Linked DNA regions of Homo sapiens. The protein of the gene in region 1 interacts with the protein of each later gene in a biochemical or structural test. Each region holds a gene or a part of one and is shown on either strand. Other genes may lie near its edges.

What was found. Proteins that work in one complex are often made in the same cells at the same time.
Region 2: the proteins of CFHR4 (region 1) and CFB form a complex in vitro, tested with the Homo sapiens proteins (one study listed by IntAct).

The regions. Positions count from the first base shown.
Region 1 is NC_000001.11:196,905,052-196,908,551, reverse strand, and holds part of CFHR4 (complement factor H-related protein 4 isoform 1 precursor), read right to left. Parts: intron 3,445-3,500; coding exon 3,262-3,444; intron 1,692-3,261; coding exon 1,515-1,691; intron 1,250-1,514; coding exon of another isoform or gene 1,237-1,249; coding exon 1,054-1,236; intron 803-1,053; exon of another isoform or gene 1-802.
Region 2 is NC_000006.12:31,944,907-31,948,894, forward strand, and holds the start of CFB (complement factor B preproprotein), read left to right. Parts: upstream 1-1,188; 5' UTR 1,189-1,315; coding exon 1,316-1,379; intron 1,380-1,466; coding exon 1,467-1,700; intron 1,701-2,100; coding exon 2,101-2,286; intron 2,287-2,441; coding exon 2,442-2,615; intron 2,616-2,835; coding exon 2,836-2,937; intron 2,938-3,038; coding exon 3,039-3,175; intron 3,176-3,467; coding exon 3,468-3,606; intron 3,607-3,923; coding exon 3,924-3,988. Other genes in the region: complement C2 isoform 1 preproprotein, read left to right, coding at 74-123, 272-451.

The DNA of each region.
Region 1 (3,500 bases):
TTTAGTGTATTCATTTTCATTCTGGGACGAGGGGAGAGGAGATGAAGGTGAAAACAGAAAGCATTGGCATTTGGAAATGGCTGAGCTTTCTGTTAATTTCTTTCTTTCTTGCTAGAAATACTGGTAAAGTGTAAGAAAAAAACAATAATCAGAGAAAGAACTTCTCAGTGTTAACTAGCTATGTGCTCTATCAGGAAGCATTTCAGGTTTTCAAGTAGGATTTTAGTTAATAGTGCATGGTTTTTATTATACTTTAAGTTCGGGGTACATGTGCAGGACATGCAGTTTTTTTACATAGGAATACATGTGCCATGGTGGTTTGCTGCACCCATCAACCCATCACCTACATTAGGTGTTTCTCTTAATGCTATCCCTCCCCTAGCTCCCCATCCTGTGACAGACCCTGGTGTGTGATGTTCCCCTCCCTGAGTCCACCTGTTCTCCTTGTTCAGTTCCCACATCTGAGTGAGAACATGTGGTGCTAGGTTTTCTGTTCTTGTGATAGTTTGCTGAGAAGGATGGTTTCCAGCTTCCTCCATGTCACTTTTGACATGGACATGAACGTATCCATTTTTATGGCTGCATAGTATTCCATGGTGTACATGTGCCACATTTTCTTTATCTAGTCTGTCATTTGGGTCTGGACATTTGGGTTGGTTCCACATCCATGGTTTTTAAAACAGTGTTTTCAAAACTCTTTGAAAACTGTTTACCTAAGTATTAATAATGTGAAAATGGTTATTGATGTTAAGGTGAGATGCTGTATTTCATATGTGTGCAATAAATGGATATCATTCTTGAAGACTCATTGTGTCCATTAACAAATTGAGGTCTCTGAACATTCCTGTTTTTAAAAGGAAACTTTGTCATTGTTTACATAAAATTTTCCAAGCTTATACACTTATATATTAAGATCTGAAAGGCAAATATTCAGCAGAATAGCTGTTTGTGAACACAGTTCTAGGGTAATAACCCATAAAAATTTTAGTATAAATAAACAAGGATCAAAGTTATTACTCTAATTTTCTCAGATCCAGAATATTAAGAACTTACATATGCATCTTGGTGGTTCTGACCAGTCTCCATTACTACATGTTACATATTTAGAACCCTGAAGTTCATAGTAGGACTGGCACTGGTACTCGACTCTTGACCATGGCAGATACACTTTTTGCGGGAAGGACGTGGTATCTCCATTGCTAATAGGTGGAGGAGGCCCACAGTTTTCTGAAGAATCTGAAAAAAAATACTTTACATTGGGGAAAAATCAACAGTTTTATTGGAAACTTTCTGAATAAAGCTTTTTATATACTCTTAAATGTATCTTATTTGATTTCTTAGGAAGACATTTGTATTTTCAACCTTTTTTTTTAAGTTTCAAGGTAATTCACACTCAAATGAGGACTACATGTATATGTACACATATGTATTCATACACATATGTGTACATATACATATGTATGTTTCTATTTGTTTAATTCTAGTAAAAAGAAATACTTGAATAAAATACTTACTATAGCATGTTGGCAAATGGGACCAGCCATCTTCACCACACACTATGGAATCTGTGGTGTTTCCATAACTGCTTTCATATCCATCATAGCATTCATAGTCCAATGTGTCATGGAGCTTAAACCACATGCCATTACTCTTGGCTCTGGAATTCTCAAAAACAGGCATATCACAAAATTCTGAAACAAAATAAAATTGAGGATTGCTTTTCTATGCCATATGATGTACAACTCGACTAAGAAAGTCCCATTGTAGGAATAAAATTTACCAATCAGTGTGTGCTAATAAATTGAGTACTATTAAAAATAGTCCGACAATCAGTGTTTTTTTTGTGCTATAACAGTTAATTACAAGAGAAAAATACATTTCCCTATAATGATCCTTCTCATTATTCAAACCCTATGAAAAACATATTAAGACTATTTAGTCAGATCTATTTTTATTTGTGAACACCTCATTGACTGTTATTACAGTCTACCTTTATCACTATAATGTATTATTTTAAAGAAGATAAAATTTTGTGAATTTAAAAGTTAATGTACATATTTATGTACTCAGTTTACTGACAGGGTTTATAAGTTGGATTAAAATTATATTCATTGGATATACGTTCTATAAAAATTTTAAAGCATCTTTTATTTTACAAATCTTAGATCATTTATCAAAGCTGGTCAAATCAGATTGAAGTGTACAGCTTTGTCTTTTGCAGAGCCCGTGATAAGCATAGAAATTGAAAACAGTATTCTAGAAATGTACGAATTGATATTTTATAGCTCCCAAACCTCAGAGTAACTTTGAGATAATCACTTTCTAAGTGTAGCATTTTCTTTTTTCTCACTTAGATTAATATTTTTGAGATTCATCCATGTTCAATTACATATCAGTAGTCCTTTCCATTTCGTCTCATGGCTAAAAATAGTTGAATTGTACCCTTGAAAATGAAGTGGATTTTGCAGTATGTAAATTATATATCAATATGTGTGTTAAAAATACATTAAATGATTTATCTTTACAAATCTTGGTGAATGCCTAAAGAGGAAAGACAAAAAAGATAAACTTTTGCCACTGCAAGGTTTCCATTGTTCATTATGCAATCTCTTTATTAATAAATAATTACAAGTTGGGAATGTTTTAGAGAACTTTAGTTGTAAGGAATCCATTGCCAAGTATGAGGTTTGTAAACATTCAGCCCACCCACTTACTCTTTTTCTTTACTTGTTTTCTCTGTACTAGACAATAAGCTGGAAATAATTTTTTGAGTTGGTTCTCCTCAGTTGCATCATTGATACAAATTATTGAAGTCTCATTTTCCTGATGCTAGCAGAAACTCAGAATTAAGCACTCATCCCTTCCCTAACATGTACATCTTAAGAGTGTGAGCAAGGAATACAATACAAGCAGTTGATAATTTTGAAATACAAAGAAAGGGAAAAGAACAAAGTTTTTATTGACAAGTAATACATTGTGCTGATATTCCCATGCAGCTCCCTAACTAGTCTGTACCTGATGGGATTGCTTTTACGTAAAGGCAAATTGAATTGAGAGAGATGGAATGATCATCTTCCCAAGTAGCCATTACTCTAAAAAGGCAAAAAAGACTTAGTTTGGCACAGAATGTTAGATGATGTTAGAAGTATTTATATCTCTTTACTCCTAAAAGTGTTTTCTATCTTTTTCTGTAAAACACTATCACCTCAAAGAGAGGAAAGAAGTTGACAGAAACTGAGTGGGAATATGTAAATAACTTACTAATGCAAATTGGTTGTGTTGACCATCCATTTTGCAAACATGTAATTGATCCTGAAGAATTTCCCTCTGCTGTTGCATATCCTGGTTTACAATTATATTGTGTTTCTTCATTTAAAATATAAATAGAGGAAGATTCAGAAATGAATCCATTTTCAATTTCTACATCTGATTTTGAGCATGTTCCTAAAATAGAAAAAGTAGAGAAAAAAGTAAATATTTGTTGAATACTTCTTTTATAG
Region 2 (3,988 bases), on another chromosome or scaffold:
TGGCCAGCATGCATGCCAGAACACCAGTCCACTGCCCTAGATGACACTGTCTCCTGTCACCCTTTGCTGGCAGGAGAATCTGGGGGAGCAGTTTTCCTTGAGCGGAGATTCAGGTTTTTTCAGGTGAGAAGGTAGAAGCTTGCAGGACCCAGGGGTTACAGGATCTCAGCCTTGTTGGGGGGATGAGGGAGGCCTTTGAGGGATCTAGGGAGGTTGGGGCTTACAGTTGGGGCTGTGGCAGCCTCCCAGCCAGTTCTCTCCTTTTCTCCAGGTGGGTCTGGTGAGCTGGGGTCTTTACAACCCCTGCCTTGGCTCTGCTGACAAAAACTCCCGCAAAAGGGCCCCTCGTAGCAAGGTCCCGCCGCCACGAGACTTTCACATCAATCTCTTCCGCATGCAGCCCTGGCTGAGGCAGCACCTGGGGGATGTCCTGAATTTTTTACCCCTCTAGCCATGGCCACTGAGCCCTCTGCTGCCCTGCCAGAATCTGCCGCCCCTCCATCTTCTACCTCTGAATGGCCACCCTTAGACCCTGTGATCCATCCTCTCTCCTAGCTGAGTAAATCCGGGTCTCTAGGATGCCAGAGGCAGCGCACACAAGCTGGGAAATCCTCAGGGCTCCTACCAGCAGGACTGCCTCGCTGCCCCACCTCCCGCTCCTTGGCCTGTCCCCAGATTCCTTCCCTGGTTGACTTGACTCATGCTTGTTTCACTTTCACATGGAATTTCCCAGTTATGAAATTAATAAAAATCAATGGTTTCCACATCTCTCAGTGCCTCTATCTGGAGGCCAGGTAGGGCTGGCCTTGGGGGAGGGGGAGGCCAGAATGACTCCAAGAGCTACAGGAAGGCAGGTCAGAGACCCCACTGGACAAACAGTGGCTGGACTCTGCACCATAACACACAATCAACAGGGGAGTGAGCTGGATCCTTATTTCTGGTCCCTAAGTGGGTGGTTTGGGCTTACTGGGGAGGAGCTAAGGCCGGAGAGGAGGTACTGAAGGGGAGAGTCCTGGACCTTTGGCAGCAAAGGGTGGGACTTCTGCAGTTTCTGTTTCCTTGACTGGCAGCTCAGCGGGGCCCTCCCGCTTGGATGTTCCGGGAAAGTGATGTGGGTAGGACAGGCGGGGCGAGCCGCAGGTGCCAGAACACAGATTGTATAAAAGGCTGGGGGCTGGTGGGGAGCAGGGGAAGGGAATGTGACCAGGTCTAGGTCTGGAGTTTCAGCTTGGACACTGAGCCAAGCAGACAAGCAAAGCAAGCCAGGACACACCATCCTGCCCCAGGCCCAGCTTCTCTCCTGCCTTCCAACGCCATGGGGAGCAATCTCAGCCCCCAACTCTGCCTGATGCCCTTTATCTTGGGCCTCTTGTCTGGAGGTAAGCGAGGGTAACCTTCCCTTCCTGCTGTCTCCAGCATCCCTCCTTGGCCTTTTGGGGCCAGGCTTCATCAGCCTTTCTCTTCAGGTGTGACCACCACTCCATGGTCTTTGGCCCGGCCCCAGGGATCCTGCTCTCTGGAGGGGGTAGAGATCAAAGGCGGCTCCTTCCGACTTCTCCAAGAGGGCCAGGCACTGGAGTACGTGTGTCCTTCTGGCTTCTACCCGTACCCTGTGCAGACACGTACCTGCAGATCTACGGGGTCCTGGAGCACCCTGAAGACTCAAGACCAAAAGACTGTCAGGAAGGCAGAGTGCAGAGGTTTGAGGGCAATGAGTGTGGGCAGTGGCCTAAGGCAGAAACAGGGCAGGCGGCAGCAAGGTCAGGACTAGGATGAGACTAGGCAGGGTGACAAGGTGGGCTGACCGGGAGTAGGAGCAGTTTTAGGGTGGCAGGCGGAAAGGGGGCAAGAAAAAGCGGAGTTAACCCTTACTAAGCATTTACCCTGGGCTTCCAGGCAGCCCTGGAAGTCAAGAGAACACTCAGAAATGGGGAGGGAGAAGCAGTGGAAATCCATATGGGTTGAGGAGTAGGTAAGATGCTGCTTCTGCGGGACTGGGAATGCGCTGTTTCTCAGTGACATGGTCTCCGAGACCAGGAGGGATACACCTAAGGCAGCCTTTCCCTCTTGATGACTTCTACTTGTCCCCCCTTCTCAAAGCAATCCACTGTCCAAGACCACACGACTTCGAGAACGGGGAATACTGGCCCCGGTCTCCCTACTACAATGTGAGTGATGAGATCTCTTTCCACTGCTATGACGGTTACACTCTCCGGGGCTCTGCCAATCGCACCTGCCAAGTGAATGGCCGATGGAGTGGGCAGACAGCGATCTGTGACAACGGAGGTGAGAAGCATCCCCTCCCCCTACATTGCTGTCTCCCTGACGGCGCCCAGCCCGAGGAGTGGGCACTCGGCTCCGGACACTGTAACTCTTGCTCTCTACCTTGCTCACGGGGCCTCAGGCTTCAGTGCTTACCTCGATGTCTCATACCTCTGCAGCGGGGTACTGCTCCAACCCGGGCATCCCCATTGGCACAAGGAAGGTGGGCAGCCAGTACCGCCTTGAAGACAGCGTCACCTACCACTGCAGCCGGGGGCTTACCCTGCGTGGCTCCCAGCGGCGAACGTGTCAGGAAGGTGGCTCTTGGAGCGGGACGGAGCCTTCCTGCCAAGGTGACCTTTGACCTGTACCCCCAGGTCAGATCCTGGTCTTCCATCCTACTGTCTTCTCTCCCCACCTCAACCCTGCTCTTTCCTCACTTTGTTTAAACCTCCCTGTACAACTATCTCACTTCTGAGCCTTTTATACCCTGGAAACCCATGATCCCCCGTCTCTTTGGTCACTGTATCCCTGACACTCCCAGACATTTGACCTCATTTCTGACTCTCCCAGACTCCTTCATGTACGACACCCCTCAAGAGGTGGCCGAAGCTTTCCTGTCTTCCCTGACAGAGACCATAGAAGGAGTCGATGCTGAGGATGGGCACGGCCCAGGTTTGAAGACAGAGAAGGGAGGCAGGGCAGGGAACTGGGGGAAAATGGAGAAGGGACAGAACTGTTAATGCTGGAGCCTGAGCCACTCTCCTGGCACCCAGGGGAACAACAGAAGCGGAAGATCGTCCTGGACCCTTCAGGCTCCATGAACATCTACCTGGTGCTAGATGGATCAGACAGCATTGGGGCCAGCAACTTCACAGGAGCCAAAAAGTGTCTAGTCAACTTAATTGAGAAGGTGGAATCCTCCTATCCCTGAACTCGGGGGAATGGAATCTCGCTGATCTTCCAGGACTAGCTCCCTGATCATTCCAGCCCCTCTGAACAACAGGGCCCCAGGAAAATCTCCAGGTCCTATTCTGTCCTCCTTCCCTTTTACTTGAAGCAGTTTCTTGACTGGTAATTCCTCCATGAACCTCAGCCCTTGAGCCTCTTACTGAGAGCCTCCCTGTCCCAGCAAAGTCGCTGAAATCTCCCAATCACAGTATTCTATTTTCAATGCCATGGCGCCTTGTTCTCCTCACCCACAGGTGGCAAGTTATGGTGTGAAGCCAAGATATGGTCTAGTGACATATGCCACATACCCCAAAATTTGGGTCAAAGTGTCTGAAGCAGACAGCAGTAATGCAGACTGGGTCACGAAGCAGCTCAATGAAATCAATTATGAAGGTCAGAGGTTAGGGAATGGTGGGAGGTTCACTTTGGGGTCAGGAGGTTCAGGGTGGAGGGGGTCATGAGACTACCTTGAGGGCGACAGGGAGGACCACTTTGTAGTCAAAAGTTGAACAGCAGGATCGTTGGGCAATGGAGGTTAGTGGGAACCTGTTGGGGGCTGGAAGGGCCACTTTGTGGTCAAAGGGAAGTCCGTGTAATGATGATTAACTTAAAAAGTTGAAAGATGTGGGATTTCAGTTGCAGATTGGTCTCTGGGGTTAAAAGATGGCTTGGAAGACCAGGTGAGGTGATGGTCTCTTCCCTCTCCACAGACCACAAGTTGAAGTCAGGGACTAACACCAAGAAGGCCCTCCAGGCAGTGTACAGCATGATGAGC